Homo sapiens: one gene and its partner. The protein of the gene in region 1 binds, or shares a complex with, the protein of each later gene. Links are inferred from orthologs where the notes say so. Each region holds a gene or a part of one and is shown on either strand. Other genes may lie near its edges.

Region 1 (8,107 bases):
GGTCCCTTTTGGGGTCTGTGGTTATAGATTTAAAGTGAGACAAGTCAACAAAGCTATGCATTTTTCTCCAGCCAGATTCAGCTATCCAAGTGCAGGTGCAGAACAGTGGATTTAACTGGCAAGTTACTATAGGTGAAATGGTGGATTAACTGGGTTGAGAACAGAGAGAGACAGAATCAACGGGGTTAAGGCAGTGATTACAATTAGAAGCCTTAGAACCTGAGGTGAGGAGGAAGGGCAATGAGGACCCGAGGGATGTTGATGGAAGATGCAAAAGTGAGAGGGTCGAGAGACTGAAGGTACCTGAGGAGTCAGGGAAGTGCTGAAGTGGAGAAGCTAGAGAGGGGAACAGAACTGGAATGACAGGAGGAGGTCAGCAGATAAAGGGAAACTTGAAATCAAGATTTTGGAAGTTGTGCGTTATTTTGTTAATGACACAGTCTAAAGCATGAACAGAGGAGTGGGATGCTGAGATGTAAGAAGACAAATCTTTTTGGAAATGAGGAGTTGAGAAAATTGAAAGGCCCAGATGTTGGATGAATTGTCTGTGCGGATGCTGAAGCCACTGAGAATAACAACAGAAGCAGTGATGAGAAGAAAACAGTGAGCCAGGAGCTGAAGAGCTGTAAGGAGCGCAATAAGAAGAATGGCAGGTGGCAGATGATCTTCCAAGGCGCTGGGAAGTCTTAGAAAGAAGAAGAAACTAAAATCTAGAGATAATGGAAAGCAGAGAGGTCACTTCCTCCATTTCCAGGCCCAGAGGAAGTTGAATTTAGGAAAAAAAAAAAAAAAACCACAATCACTGCTTGACAAGGATATAAGGAATGCTGTCCCTTCAGGAGAGAACCTGAAGTTTCCAGTAAAAAAGATGAAAAAGGAAACGTCTGGCTGGGCACAGTGGCTCATGACTGTAATCCCAACACTTTGGAAGGCCAATGCAGGAGGATCACTTGAGGCCTAGAGTTTGAGACCAGCTTGGGAAACACAGAGAGACCACATCTCTACAAGTAACTTAAAAATTAGGCCAGGCGCGGTGGCTCACGCCTGTAATTCCAGCACTTTGAGAGGCCGAGGCAGGTGGATCACCTGAGATCAGGAGTTCGAAACCAGCCTGGCCAACATAGTGAAACCCCGTCTCTACTAAAAATACAAAAATTATCCAGGCATGGTGGCGGTTGCCTGTAATCCCAGCTACTCATGAGGCTGAGGTAAGAGAACCACTTGAACCCAGGAGGCAGAGGTTGCAGTGAGCCAAGATCGCACCATTGCACTCCAGCCTCGGTGACAGAGTGAGACTCTGTCACAAAAAAAGAAAAAATTAGCCAGGCAGTGTGGCATGCGCCTGTGGTCCCAGCTACTTGTGAGGCTGGGGCAGGAGGATTGCCTGAGCCCGGAAGGTCAAGGATGCAATGAGCTGTGATCGCACAGTGGCCTGGGCAACAGAGTGAGAAACCCTGTCTCAAAAAAAAGTCTGAGAAGTTGGAAGTTGTAGGGGATTTTGCAGATGAAAGACCATGAGTTTCAGAGACTCACTGTGTTCAAGGAGTCCATATTCACACACTTCAACGTGCCTGTGGATTTTCAGAAAGGATGTAAAACAAACTGTCAACAGCCAGAATGACCAGGCCTCTTCGAGGCCAGAGTCGATGAAATTTAAGACCTGACTCCAGCCTGTGAGTGCGAGAGAAGGAATGACTCTTACACCCTAGTAAGGGGATGCCCATAGCGGGTAGGGAGTCTTCACAGATGCACCCACAGACCCCCTACACTGAGGTCTATGACTCCATGAATTTGGCTGTGTTTTCATTTTTGATAAGCCCCTTTCCACTGCTAGGCCTCAGTTTCCATATATGTGAAGTGAGGAATGCGGACTGTGTTTTCTCTTGGCCTCCTTCCAGCTCTGACAGTCTGTGAATCTCCTGGAAGCCAGCTCTGGGTCCAGTCCTGTCTTGGGGAAATTAGACCAGAAAGGCACAGAGCATACACAAGAACCCAACAGCATCTTCTGACACAAGACCATACTCCCACTGGCACATAGTATCTTTGCTTACCTAATTATATGCATGGACACACAAACACACACATGTACACACCAGGCAAGAAAACTCACAACCGGGTCAGGCGCAGTGGCTTGCGCCTGTAACCACAGCACTTTGGGAGGCCGAGGCGGGTGGATCACCTGAGGTCAGGAGTTCGAGACCAGCCTGGCCAACCTGGTGAAACCCTGTCTCTACTAAAAATACAGAAATAGGCTCGGCGTGGTGGCACACACCTGTAATCCCAGCTACTCAGGAGGCTGAGGCAGGAGAATCACTTGAACCCCGGAGATGGAGGTTGCAGTGAGCCAAGATCACACCACTGCACTCCGGCCTGGGCAACAGAGTGAGACTTTGTCTCGAAAAAACAAAAGAAAACCTGCAACCATTGACACATGCAGCCACCCACACCCTTTCTTGTGGTCACCTCACCGTACTCGGCACCATCACGTCCTAAACACAGTGTCCCATAATCATCATCTCACAAAATCTCAGTCCCAGACTTCTGCCTACCTTGAGCAGATGGGGCAACTGCTGGGTAACCAGCTCTTTGAACTCGTTGACGCTGAGGCTATCCTTCCGGCCCTCCTGCCTTGCAAAGGTGAAGAAGGTGGTGACCACGGTCTCAATGGACTCCTCTAGCTCTGTCAGTGGTTCTGCTGCCATTAGGACCCTGAGGCCAAAGCTGATGTCCTCAAGGGGCTAGCTGACCTTTGTCAGGGCTGACCTGTGGAAGAGAGAAGGAGCAGAGAGGGAGAGTCAGGGAGCCCCAAGATGCAGGAATGGTTCAGAAGGTCCCTGCCTTGGTGTTATCACATCAGTCTCAGCCTGGAGGGGGCATATGGGGAAAGAGGGAGAGGACAGGGGTTGAGCTTGGGGCAGCAGACCAGGCAACGGCATCTCAGTTTTGGTGGGGGCAGGAGATTCAGCTCCAGAAACCCCCTCTTCTGTAGGTCTCACAATCCGGGATCCTTTTTAAATGTCTGTGGCTTAGGGACCCCTCTGTGGTGATCCCTCGATCTGGAGACCCCTCTACTTGAGAGGAGGTCTTCAGTTGAAGGTCCTTCTTGGAGTCCTTCAAGTCTGGTGGCCCCTCTGTGGCGTGTCTGTCTCAAGAATCCCTTCTTGTCTCACCCAGACTCACAGGTCATAAGGTTGTTTGTCTCCAAAGCTTGTTTATGTTGGGCCCTGGTCTCCGGCCACTCGCATCCGCCCACACACACTCTAACCGCTCCTCCCAGCAGAGAAGCACAGGGTCTGGCAAATGTCCCCTGTGGTCAGAGCTGGCTCCGTCTGAACAGACCCATTTTCTCTGCCCCGCTCCACCCTTACCTCTCCTCAGCGGCAGCAGGGCAGAGTGCTGAACCCAGGACCCCACAGATCCTCCCCGCTCCTGTCTCCCGGTGACAAGGGTCCTGGAACGGGGCGTCTCTGACTCCCTGCTCCAGGACGGGTTTAGTACAGGCACTCACAACCCCCTGGGGTGCGGCGGGTGGGGCTGGAAGAGGCATTCTCTTTTCTGTCCACCCCGTCACACACTCCTGCACGCGCTGTTGCTCGATCATCCAAAGCTCCTTCCTGAATTCCTGTCTGAGCTGGCTCTGGGGGAGGGACCTGGGAGCCCAGGAAGAAAAAATGATCTCCAGCCTCCCTCCAGGGTCAGCCATGAGACTCACCCGGCAAGGAGATGGGGTAGAGTGAGCTGGAGCCTCAGGGCTGAGGTTTATAAGCAGCGGGGAAGGAGGAGAGAGCTGCTTCCAAGCCCGGAGGTGTCAAATTTCCGTGGTCGATTCTGAAGACCAGAGACAGCCCAATCAGGCCGCTTGCCCTGAGCCCTCAGGTCTGGACCCGGGCTCCCTGCCAGCCACACGAGCGCCCCCACTTGGTCAGGGAGAGGAGCTGCCTGGACAGATCTCGTTCGGCAGGGGTCCCAGGGTCCTAGTCCTCTCAATACTGGGGGCTGCTGCCACCATACCCATGTCTAATCAGGAGTGTGTATGCTGAGGGGGGAAGAGGGAGGCAACCAATCAAGGGAGCTCAACACTGAGAGGCCCAATCTGAGACACACACAGAGGCCCCTTGGAATGAGATCCCACAAAGGATGCTACAGACCAAGATCCCTCAGAGAACCCCAGGCTGAGGCCCCACACACAGAGGGGGATCCAGGTTGAGACCCCCAGAGAAGAGTCCTGGATTGAAATCCCTCTGTGGGTTCTCAGACTCCCAAGACTAAGTTTCTCACTGAGGGTCCTCTCAGTGAGGCCCCATGGAGGAGCCACAGACTAAGACCCCCTCAGCAGAATTCCCCCCTTACCGGGCTCAACCAGCACAGCCAGCCACAGGTACTGCAAGGCCCAGCTTGGGGTAAGACATCCAGTGTCCCTCCCAGGACCTCCTTCCCACCTCTTTCCCCTGCACCATCCACTGCTGCCTGGAGAGAAAGGAACGGGGCAAGCAAGGCTGGGAAAGAGACAAGGGCCGCCTGTTCCAGCCCAGGAGACAGAGGGCGCCTCTGTCTGCTCCTGGCCCCTTGCCCCACAGGGTGTTCGTCTGTGAAGGGGTGGAGTCGGTGGGGGGGTCAGCGGGGGAGGGACTGTTGAAGACAGGTCTCCACACACAGCTCCAGCAGCCACATTTGCAACCTTGGCCATCTGTCCAGAACCTGCTCCCACCTCAGGCCCAGGCCAACCGTGAGTACCCTGCCCCACTGGGCTAGTCCCTGGCCTGCCAGCTTCAGGGAGAGGGGTCTTCAGAAGGGCTCCAAGAGGCTGGGGACCATAGCACTGTGGAGCACTGAGGATCTGGGAGGAGTCAGTCAGGGTGAGGGCAGTTTGGGATTTGGGGGAGACAGGGTTTGGAAGGTGGTGATGAGAGACAAATGAACTGAAGGTCGGAGAGAGAGCTGGCAGCTCAGCAAAGGAGGAAGCCAGTGGGGAACCCACCATGAGCTTCCTGACCGCCTGGCCCTCCCACAGGGAGCCCTCAAGTCCCTGCCAAGGCCCCCTCTGTCTCCCAGGTGTTGGGAAGGGTCCCAGCCCTCCCCTGCCTCGCCTCCTGTGGGGTAAGAAGAGAGCAGATACAACAGCTGTTTCTGCCCCCACCTCTCCTGCCAGCCTTAGTCTCTGCCACCCCCACCCTGCCTTGCCAAGAGCTCAGGTCCCGGGGGAGTCTGGGGGTGGCAGGGCAAAGCTCCCATGATATGGGGAAGCAGAGATGTAGGGTGCTGTGCCCCTTCCCAACTCGACCTCCACAGGACCTCCCCTTTCTCCTCCTCCCATTTTTGGCCCAGACCTCTTGACTCCTCTTTCCCCCCATTCTTACCTCTTTGTTTCCCCATCTCCCCTGCCCCCAAGTCCTCTCAGAACTGCCACCACGTAAAATCCCAGGCTGCTTTAGGGCTCCAGGTGACCTCCAGCTGCCCCTCTGGCATGGAGCAGGTAATCAAGCTACCAGCACCCCTCCCTCAAGCACCCCTTATCCCCTCATCAGCCACAGCTTGGGTTCCATCTCCCCCATGTCTCTGTGACAACTGCTTCTCAGGTCCGGAGTTCAGATGACACTCACAAGGGCCCCATTGAAGAACTGGGATGTCATTCGATCAGGGGCCATTGTCCAGCCCCCTAGGCCTGGGGAAGGATGGGGACATCTGATCCGAGACACCTGAGCTGCCCCCTCTGGGGTTGTGGAAGGCCAGACTGTCCCAGGGCCAAGGGAAAGAGGCCCCCCGGCTTGGCAGTCTTCTCTCTCAACAGACCACTCCTTTCTCCTTTCTTCTCCTACTCTCTCCCAGCCCCTTGAACTCAAAGGACCGCATGCTTTCAGCCCTTTCTCTCCCCCAACACACAGCAGCCCCATTCCCCTTGCTCCCACTATCCCCGAATCAACCAGGAGTGAGCAGTTGCAGGGACAACGCCTGCAGGTCTCCTCTCCCACTCCCTGGGAACTCTGGCTCCAAGGAAAAGGCTCAGACATTCCTCTCTCCCCTTCTGCCACCCACCAGATGGAAGGGATAATTTTGCAGAGGCAATGGGAGCATATCCCAAAGAAGCCAAAATGACATGTTCAGGAGAGAACAGAGTTGAAGGACCAAAAGGGGCCCCCAGCTGCTGACAGGAAACTCAGAGTCAGTGAGACCTCCCTCCCCCAGAAGGCGTACGCCACCCACTGGGGCTGCCATCCCCTCTACCAGGCTGACCGAGGGTACCAGACTGACTCCTTGCTAGGGGTGGGCAGCAGAAGGAAGGCTGTAGTGGACACCCCAGCCCACCACCCTCAACAGCAGAGCTTGGCTATGCTAGACAGGCAAGGTCCAGGGTAAAAATAGAGCCAGAGGAAGCATGGCCCAGTCCTGTGACCACCCCTGCCTGCCCCACCCTCCTCAATCCCTGCCTGGGCAGCCACTGCAGACATCTACCACAGGCCTCTGGAGCCAGCCCAGCTCCAACTGCTCTCTCTCCATGCCCCAACCCTGATTCCCTCTGGCTGGGGTACAGACTGAGGGACACAGAGAACAGGCCTGCACTTAGGTCTCTTGGGGTTTCCCTCACATTGTAAAATCTCAGGGAAAGATCAATTGCAGTAGGGCTCTAATCCCACAGCTATTTGAGCTGTCAGCCAGGGCCAGTCCTGAGGGTTCCCCTCACCTAGACCCCAGGTACTCCGGGCCTGGTCCTCAGCTCACTTCCATGATGGGGGTGGGTAGGTGCACTGCTGCAATGGGCTCTGAGCTGGAGACGGCGATGGAGACCCTCATCAACGTGTTCCACGCCCACTCGGGCAAAGAGGGGGACAAGTACAAGCTGAGCAAGAAGGAGCTGAAAGAGCTGCTGCAGACGGAGCTCTCTGGCTTCCTGGATGTGAGCATAGAGTGGTGGAGTGGGAGTGGAGTGGGTGAAGGTTGGGGGAATGGGGTGGACACCCCCTTGCTATCTCCCCACCCCACCTCCAGCTCAGCCTAGCCTCTTTCTTTCCTTTCCCAGGCTTCTCTCCTGGGTTTTTCCAGGCTCCCCTACTCCTCCTGGGTCAAGTCAAAATGCCCTGGTTTATTGATCACCTGTTAAGTGTTAGGCCCTGTGTAGATTCATCAATAATAAGACACACAGACTTAGAAGGGAAAGATTGACACTTAAAAGTAAACCATGAACTCCAGGAAATACACAGAGCCTTAACAGATGTACCAGAAAGGGTTATGAGAGATTATTAACCTGATTGAAGTCAGATGGCTTTCCTGAAGAGGTGGCACTTGAACCATGGATTTCCATTGGAAGATTATCTGGGTAAATGCAGACATTTTAGGAGGAGGTAACTGAATGAACAAAAGCATGGGAGAAAGAAGAATGTGGAGCATGTCAGTAGTTTCATTCAACTGGCATGAAGGATGTAGAAAACTAGGCTGCTAAGGCTAACCAGGGCCCCAAAGTAAAGAAGCCTCAGGATACGGTAGAAAGTGCACCGGTTTTGAGGTTTTATTGGACTGGGTTCAAATTCCAGCCCTGCTACTTTCTAGCTGTGGGACTTTGGGCATATTTATTTAACCACCGATTACCAATTTGTTTCTTCTCTAGAATGGAAATAATGAAACATACCTCACATTATTTGTATTAGAATTAAATTAGACAGTGCTTGTAAAGCTCCTAGTGTAGTGCTTGCTTTATTATAGGCACTGAACATACGGTAACTGGTGTCATTATTATTCATTCTGCCAGGTGAAAGAGCTTATGCTGTAGGCAACAGAAGCCCTCAAGACCTTTGAGGAGGCCTAGAAGAGTCCCATAATTCAATGCAGTTCCTCTCGCTCATCTTTGCCTCCTGCTCCTCAACCACCCCCTTGCCTCTGACTCAGTGCTGTACCCTTCCCTATACACCTCCCTCTTCCTCTCCTCCCACCACAGGCCCAGAAGGATGTGGATGCTGTGGACAAGGTGATGAAGGAGCTAGACGAGAATGGAGACGGGGAGGTGGACTTCCAGGAGTATGTGGTGCTTGTGGCTGCTCTCACAGTGGCCTGTAACAATTTCTTCTGGGAGAACAGTTGAGCAGACAGCCACATTGGGCAGCGCCCTTCCTCTCCA
Region 2 (7,526 bases), on another chromosome or scaffold:
GTATTTAAAGTTTGTCTTAGTCCAACGTTGATGTTCTTGTGACATTATGCGCTCTCTTCTTTTTTTTTTTTTTTTTTTTTTTTTTGATACAGAGTCCCACTCTGTCACGCAGGCTGGAGTGCAGTGGTGCAATCTTGGCTCACTGCAACCTCTGCCTCCGGGGCTGAAGCGATTCTTCTGCCTCAGCCTCCCGAGTAGCTGGGATAACTGGCACATGCCACCATGCCCAGCTAATTTTTGTATTTTTAGTAGAGACGGGGTTTCGCTATGTTGCCCAGGCTGGTCTTGAACTCCTGACCTCAGGTGATCCACCCCCCTCGGCCTCCCAAAGTGCTGGGATTACAGGCGTGAGCCACCATGCCCAGCAGACATTATGCTTTCTTAAACAAAATTGATAAGAACCTCTTCTGGTTTTGTCTCTTCATTTTTAATTTGTTGACAGCTTATTTTGAAAAAGGAGAAACGTTGATTCTTCCTTAGACAGGGTCTCACTCTGTCCACCCAGGCTGGAGTGCAGTGGTGATCATGGCTCACTGCAGCCTCAACTTCCTGGGCTCAAGCAGTCCTCTCACCTCAGTCTCCCCAAGTAGCTGGGAGTACAGGCAGGTGTGCCAGGACACCCAGCAAATTTAAAAAAATTTTTTGTAGAGACAAGGTCTCACGATGTTGTCCAGGGTGGTCTCACACTCCTGGCTCAAACGATCCTCCCACTTGGGCATCCTAAAGTGCTGGGATTACGGGCATGAGCCATGATTCCTAGCCCTTTTTTAAAAAGTAATACCAAGCAAATAGTGTTAGGTTCTAAATTTTTGTCTTGATGATTTTAGAATAAAGCTTATTATTAACACATTTAAAGGTGTTATGTTACTGATAGGAAGCATTTTAGAAATCAATCTAGAATAATAGTTTTGTTTTTTAAAATCATACACAATTGCTTTTTGAGGATACTACTATGAAGTTTAATAACCTTTTCTCCTTTGGCCACTGGGTGAATGGGAAATAAATTTAGCTGAAGAACACAATGAAGTTCTTTAAAGCTCTTAACTTGCTATAGTGTGTCCCATAGACTTTTTTTTTTTTTTTTTGAGACGGAGTCTCGCTCTTTCACCCAGGCGGTATCTCGGCTCACTGCAAGCTCCGCCTCCTGGGTTCACGCCATTCTCCTGCCTCAGCCTCCCGAGTAGCTGGGACTACAGGCGCCTGCCACCGCGCCCGGCTAATTTTTTGTATTTTTAGTAGAGACGGGGTTTCACCGTGTTAGCCAGGATGGTCTCAATCTCCTGACCTCGTGATCCACCCGCCTCGGCCTCCCAAAGTGCTGGGATTACAGGCGTGAGCCACCGTGCCCGGCCTCCCATAGACTTTTTTACATAGTTACAGAAACCCTAGGCCAAAAACAGTTCATTTTCATTCCTGGGTCAGCTGTATTGTACAGTAAAGCATTTTTGTGAATTTGAAATTGTATGAAATTATGGTGTAAGGCTCAATTGAAAAGACCCATTCCGAAACCTCTCTCTGGATAAGAGATTCAAGTTCCAGAAGGAATACACTTAGTTACTGATGGGAAAGATCGTTTTTCTTCCTGTAACCCTTTACCTCAGTGATTACAATAATCTGTCCCATAGCTTCAACTTTTAGGTCTTTGCAGTTGTCTCCCAGGTACATAGCTGTAGCACTAACTTCTTTCCTGATTACTGGTCAGATTTTTATCTGCTATTCATGTTCACTGGAGATGGTTAATTAGGTATGTTCAAATGGAGCTTGCCTAGAAGTAAATTTATAAACGCCCATCTTCTTTCCTCTCACACAAAGGGGGGTATAATCTACTCTTGATAATTTTTCTCTTTATATCTTTATTCCCATTATTCCAGTCATCCTGGTTTTTAATTTCAGATTTATTCTAACTTTTTTTGGCCCTGTACCTTACAATCAACTGGTAAAAGTTGTCACTTCCATCGTCAAAATATGTATTATACAAATAACTTATTTCTTGCTTGAAAAGTTAATTCATTTATATTAATACTTCGTTTATTATCTCTGCATTGACCTGATTGTTAAATAATGTTTGGTAACAAAATTTCACTGTACAAACAGAATGCAACTTGATTATACTTGTTCTGTGCCAACAGTTAAGAAGTAAAGTCAAGAAAAATGTCTCATATCTGTTCTTTCCCTTCTGTTATATTTGCCACTGTTAGGCTTTTACTAGAAAATTTCTAGACTAATCCCTCCTGTTTCCTGTATCTAAGCCATGCTTTACTTTGTCATTTCTCTACTCTCAAAATTTTAGTGCCTGGATCCTCCATTGCCTTTACAAGGAAGCCAAGTTCTTAAAATGGTATTCATGGCCTTGTATTCCATTTTAACCTAAATAGTTCTGACATTTTCAATACGTATTGTTACTTAATCGTGCTGTGAATTTAGAGAGACTTCAGAGAGCTGCATACTAGTCCATTTCTCTCTCTTTTTTTTTTTTTTTTTTTGAGACAGATTCTCACTCTGTCACCCAGGCTGCAGTGCAGTGGCACGATCTCGGCTCACTGCAACCTCTGTCTCCCAGGCCCAAGCAATTCTCCTGTCTTAGCCTCCTGAGTAGCTGGGACTACAGGCACACACCTGCGTCCCTAGCTAATTTTTGTGTTTTTAGTGGAGACAGGGTTTCGCTATGTTGCCCAGGCTGGTCTGGAACTCCTGAGCTCAGGTGATCTGCCAGCTTTGGCCTCCTAAAGTGCTGGGATTACAGGCGTGAGCGACCACTCCCAGCCACTGGTCCATTTCTAGCACCTCAGATAAATTATTTAATCTCTCAGCCTCAGTTTGCTCTGAAATGTTAGAATGTTGTAGTAAGTACCTTCTTCATTAAGTTGTTGTAAGTCTAAATGGGCTTGGCATGTAGTAAGCGCACAATAAATGGTAGTTATTTTTCTCTGCTCATGACTTTTCATCTACTTTGAGTGTTGGTACTGCTCCCAGGTCTGTCCCCTTTTTTGAAACATGAAAATCTCAGTCATCTCTCAAGATTTAGCTTAGATTACACAGCTAGTTTAGCCTCTCATCTGAACTCTTCAAGAGATCGTTAGTATTAAATACAATTTTGCGTAATAGTTATTTGCTTACCGTTTTTTCCCTTTTCCATTGGAATTCCTAAGTGGAGACATAATGTCATCTTTAGCATCTGTTGTTACTCTACCATGTGATGAATAGGATGGCTGTACCTGCAGTTTATATACTTCTCCCTCAGTGACTGGCTTCAGAAATTTTGTGTGTGTAAAAACAATATAAGCTGCCATTGTATTTCATAATATTAATGTAAAATTAGAAATGTTTTTATTGGCTGGGCGCGGTGACTCACACCTGTAACCCCAGCACTTTGGGAGGCTGAGGCAGGTGGATCACCTGAGGTCCGGAGTTTGAGACCAGCCTGGCCAACATGGTGAAACCCTGTCTGTACTAAAAGTACAAAAAATTAGCTGGGCGTGGTGTCGTGCACCTGTAGTCCCAGCTACTCGGGAGGCCGAGGCAGGAGAATCGCTTGGACCCGGGAGGTGGATGTTGCAGTGAGCGGTGATCGCACCACTGCATTCCAGCCTGGGCAATAGAGCAAGACTCCATCTCAAAAAGTTTAAAAAAAAATTCTTATTATTGAGAAGGTAAACTCAAGCAAAAAGCTATTAATGTGGACAATATTCATTCCTAATTCTATTCTATAGATAAATTATGTTATTTCACCAATAAAGTGTAAAAACTTCTGTTGCAGACAGGAACTTGATAGCAGCTGTAGCATTAGTGGAGTTTTTCAGACTTTGTACATTAAAGTAAATTTGTAGTAAATTTTCAGTGCATTTGGGAGCCATTTTTGCATGAGTAGTTGAATAGATAGAATAATTGCATGTTAGTGTGAGAATACAGATATGAAAACACTTAGAGCAGAGAATCTAAAATAATTTTTAAGGTTGAAAAGCAGGATGGCAAAACTTGGATCTGTGGTTCCAAGCTATGACCTAAAAGCCTAATCAGTCACCTGAAGCAAAAATTTGTTAAAGTTATTATAGCAATAATTTGTTAAATAGGAGATTCATGCATATCAAAGAAAATGGGGTCTTTGTCTTCTGAAAACCACTCTCTGACAGGTTCCATGAAAATACCCATGGCTGTTTCAAAAAAGAATTTCATAAATTTTATTTTGAGGATTAAGTATAGTTTTTGCATTCTTGCTCTTATGACATATTTACATGTTTCACTATGCATCTAATGACTGAGAACTTTTCTTATACATTCTAATTCGCAGTGTTTCTACTGGAAATGACTTTTGAAATCCATTTACCTCCATCTTCATTCATTTACTAAATATACCACATTTCACTGATTTCAGTACTGATACTTTTTTATATTTTAAGATCTCTGAAATCAGGCTGCATTGTACAATCAATGGGTTGTAATATTTCATTGGTAGCGTTTTTCCTTGTTTAGTGGTACATAAAGTTATGCATCTTATATTGATTGTGAATCAGGATAGGCAAGGATATAGTTCAGTAACAAAACTCCTAAAATCTCAGCACAAGGGTGTTGAATGTGGAGGCTTTGTACTGCATCTCATTCATTCCATGTATGTCTAGCGTGAGTTAGCAGAGAGCCCTGCTCAGGGAAGTAATTTAGCGTTCCAGTTGGTTAGAGAGCTTCCATCTAAACTTTCTTCTCAGTCACTGCAGTGGTGGGAAGGAAATGGAATGAATTGCACACTTGTTTTTTTTGTTTTGTTTTGTTTTTTTGAGACGGAGTGTTACTCTGTCACCTAGGCTTGAGTGCAGTGGCACAATCTCGGCTCACTGCAACCTCTGCCTCCCGGGTTCAGGCAATTCTCCTGCCTCAGCCTTCCGAGTAGCTGGAAGGAGCTCACGTCACTTCTGCTCAGATTTCAATTAGCTAAAGCAAGTTACATGTATAAACCTAATTTCAGAAAGGTCAGGGCAGAAGAGGAGAATTGGAATATTTGTGAATAGCAGTAATGACAGCATAGATTAAGTTTTAAATTCACTAAAGTGTAGCGATCACCTGGAAGGTAGATATAATGCAAAACTAGATTCGAAGAGGAATTGGACATATGTAATATACATACTAAATTGGGTCTAAAAATTTAGAAGATAGAAAAGCTACTTCTGCCTAGGGGTATGGTAAACATCAGTTGGGGTCAAGCTCATACCAGAGAGCACAACATAGGGAAAAATAACAGGAAAGTGGGAACAAGCAGGCAGTGAGTTTTGTGTAAAAAGAATTCAGTTAAATAGTTGAGTGTCTACTCTATATTTGGTACTTTTACAATAAGAGATGCAAAGGTGAATTGTGCTGTTTAACAGCTGACTGTCAGGGTTTTTCCATCTCATCAATGTTGACAGTTTGGGCCAGATATTGTTGGGCAGGTGGACATGCTGTGCGTTGTAGGGTGTTTAGCAACATCCTTAGCCCACATGATATGCCACTACCATAACCCAGGCTTACCAATCCAGAATGTCTCCTGGTGGACAGATTCACCCCTTGTTGAGACCCATGAGTCTAGATAGATTAGAGCTGGTAAGAACAGTTGAGAACCTGGCTTAAGTGGACTTTAGGACCTGGTTTAAGTTCGTCCCACAAGAAATGGAGGAAAAAAAGATCGCCAATAGATTTTAGAGTTGGAATCAAGAAGACTTGATAAATGAATATAGGGGAAAGGCGTGAGTCAGAGAAAACTGTGAACATTAAAGTCTGGATGACTGGGAATTGGTACCACTAGTAACAACTGGAGAACACAGGAAAGAGGATACACAGCTGGGAGGAATAATGGTGAATTTAGTTTTGGTTGTACGGAGTTTGAGATGCTAGTCATTGTCTATGTGAAAATGCCTAGCAGATACGGAGATAGAGAAACAGCTTGGAAAAGAGGTCAGCTCCAGAGATTATATAGAGATTTGAGAATCCTCTTTTTGTGGGTTAAAGCGAGATGGGATAAGCCCTTTAGGACAAAAAGCTTAGACATGGGAAAGAGGAGAGGGCAGGAAGCGTATACTTTATACTTTGATTTGAGGAATAAGAAGTGGAGAGAGACCTAAAGGTGAGGAGAAACCCTTGAGGTCGAAGTGTTACCTACTGATAGCTAGCACAGAGTAGGTGCTGAGGTCACAGAATGTGACGAGAATTTCAAGAAGGAGCGGTGCTCAGTGTTGCAGAGATTAAGGAGTATGAGATTGAAAAAAGCCTTTGGATTTAAGAGAAAGGAATGAGAAACAAATTATACCTACTCTATGCCAGGGACTTTAACATGTATTCTCTCTATTAATTGTCAGAATAACCTTGTTATTATCTTCATTGTACAGACAGGAAACTGGTGCAGTTAAGGCTGTTTAAGTGGTGGACTAGGGATTAGTGGCCTTCAAGAGAATAATTTTACTAGTGTTTGGAGCAAGGAGTGGAGAGACATAAGCCAGATAACTGGAGTCTATAATAAAAAGTATGTGTGTATTTTCCCTTTTCCAGAAACGGCATTTCAGTCTTGTTTGCCTTGTAAACTACTCATCTTTGGATAACCAGACTCAAGGACTTTCTTCTCTTCTTTTGTATCCTGACATACCTCTGCTCCCTAAGCAATTTGTACTTATCTTTGTTATAACATTTACCAGTTTTAATAAATTTACCTGTTGTCCTTATTTCCTGTGTTCTTCAGGGCCAGGCCTTATGTCTTCACCATCTTTGTAATTCCAGTAGAGCGCCTAGCCTGTATTAAATCAGTGATTTTCAACTCTGGCTGCACATTAGAATCAACTGGAGAGTTTATAAACAAAATGAACGCACAGGCTCCTCTTGTGGGTGAGGCCTGGAGTGTCTGTAATTCCTTTTTGTTGTTGTTGTTGTTGTTGTTTTAAAGCTTCCCAGGTGATCTGAATGTGCAACTAGGATTGAGTCTCACTGTATCACTGTATTAGGGGCTCAATAAATGTTGACTAAAGGATGAGGAGTGGAGACAGTAAGTACAAATTATTCTTGAAAAAAATTGGTAGTGAAACAAAAGAGAAAAATATGTATTACTACTTTGTTTTTTCCTGCTATTTCATTTTAAGAATACTTTTTTTTTGTAAGAGAACATTCTAGGGTGTATAAGGGAAATGATTCAGAAGGGAAAAGGAAATTGAAAACGTAAGATAAAGAATAGTTTACATAACTTACTTTCTTTTAGTTGATGATAATGCCTACTTTGGATTCATGGGTTTCTTCATATTTTAAATAAATGGTAAAAACATATTTAAAGAAGAATCAATGTTGAGTTCTTTAGATGACCCAGTTTCAGGTTAAGTGCTGTGGGCCCTGTTTTTAATTACCAATCAAAATGATAATTATAAAGGAAAAAAATTTAGAGGAAAACTTATTAAAACAAATTACCACTCTTAAGTTTACCCATATTAAGATAAATTCACCTGACACACAGACATGTGATAGTGATCACTTGGTCATAAACTATTTAAATGTCATAAAGTTCAAAAAAGTGGTTTTTTCCT

The links.
Region 2: the proteins of S100A1 (region 1) and CAPZA2 are in contact, whole or in part, in an NMR structure (PDB 2KBM), measured with the Rattus norvegicus proteins. The link is inferred for Homo sapiens from one-to-one orthologs. Residues at the interface, in NP_001007637.1 of Rattus norvegicus: Ser44, Phe45, Leu46, Asp47, Lys50, Asp51, Ala54, Lys57, Ile58, Glu61, Leu78, Ala81, Leu82, Thr83, Ala85, Cys86; in NP_001009180.1 of Rattus norvegicus: Thr267, Lys268, Ile269, Asp270, Trp271, Asn272, Lys273, Ile274, Leu275, Ser276.

What each region holds. Positions count from the first base shown.
Region 1 is NC_000001.11:153,623,771-153,631,877, forward strand, and holds the start of S100A1 (protein S100-A1), read left to right. Parts: upstream 1-4,663; 5' UTR 4,664-4,726; intron 4,727-6,738; 5' UTR 6,739-6,751; coding exon 6,752-6,892; intron 6,893-7,240; coding exon of another isoform or gene 7,241-7,308; exon of another isoform or gene 7,309-7,927; coding exon 7,928-8,071; 3' UTR 8,072-8,107. Other genes in the region: S100A13 (protein S100-A13), read right to left, coding at 3,760-3,828, 4,351-4,467, 7,241-7,308. UniProt on the Homo sapiens protein: Small calcium binding protein that plays important roles in several biological processes such as Ca(2+) homeostasis, chondrocyte biology and cardiomyocyte regulation.
Region 2 is NC_000007.14:116,865,119-116,872,644, forward strand, and holds part of CAPZA2 (F-actin-capping protein subunit alpha-2), read left to right. Parts: intron 1-7,526. UniProt on the Homo sapiens protein: F-actin-capping proteins bind in a Ca(2+)-independent manner to the fast growing ends of actin filaments (barbed end) thereby blocking the exchange of subunits at these ends.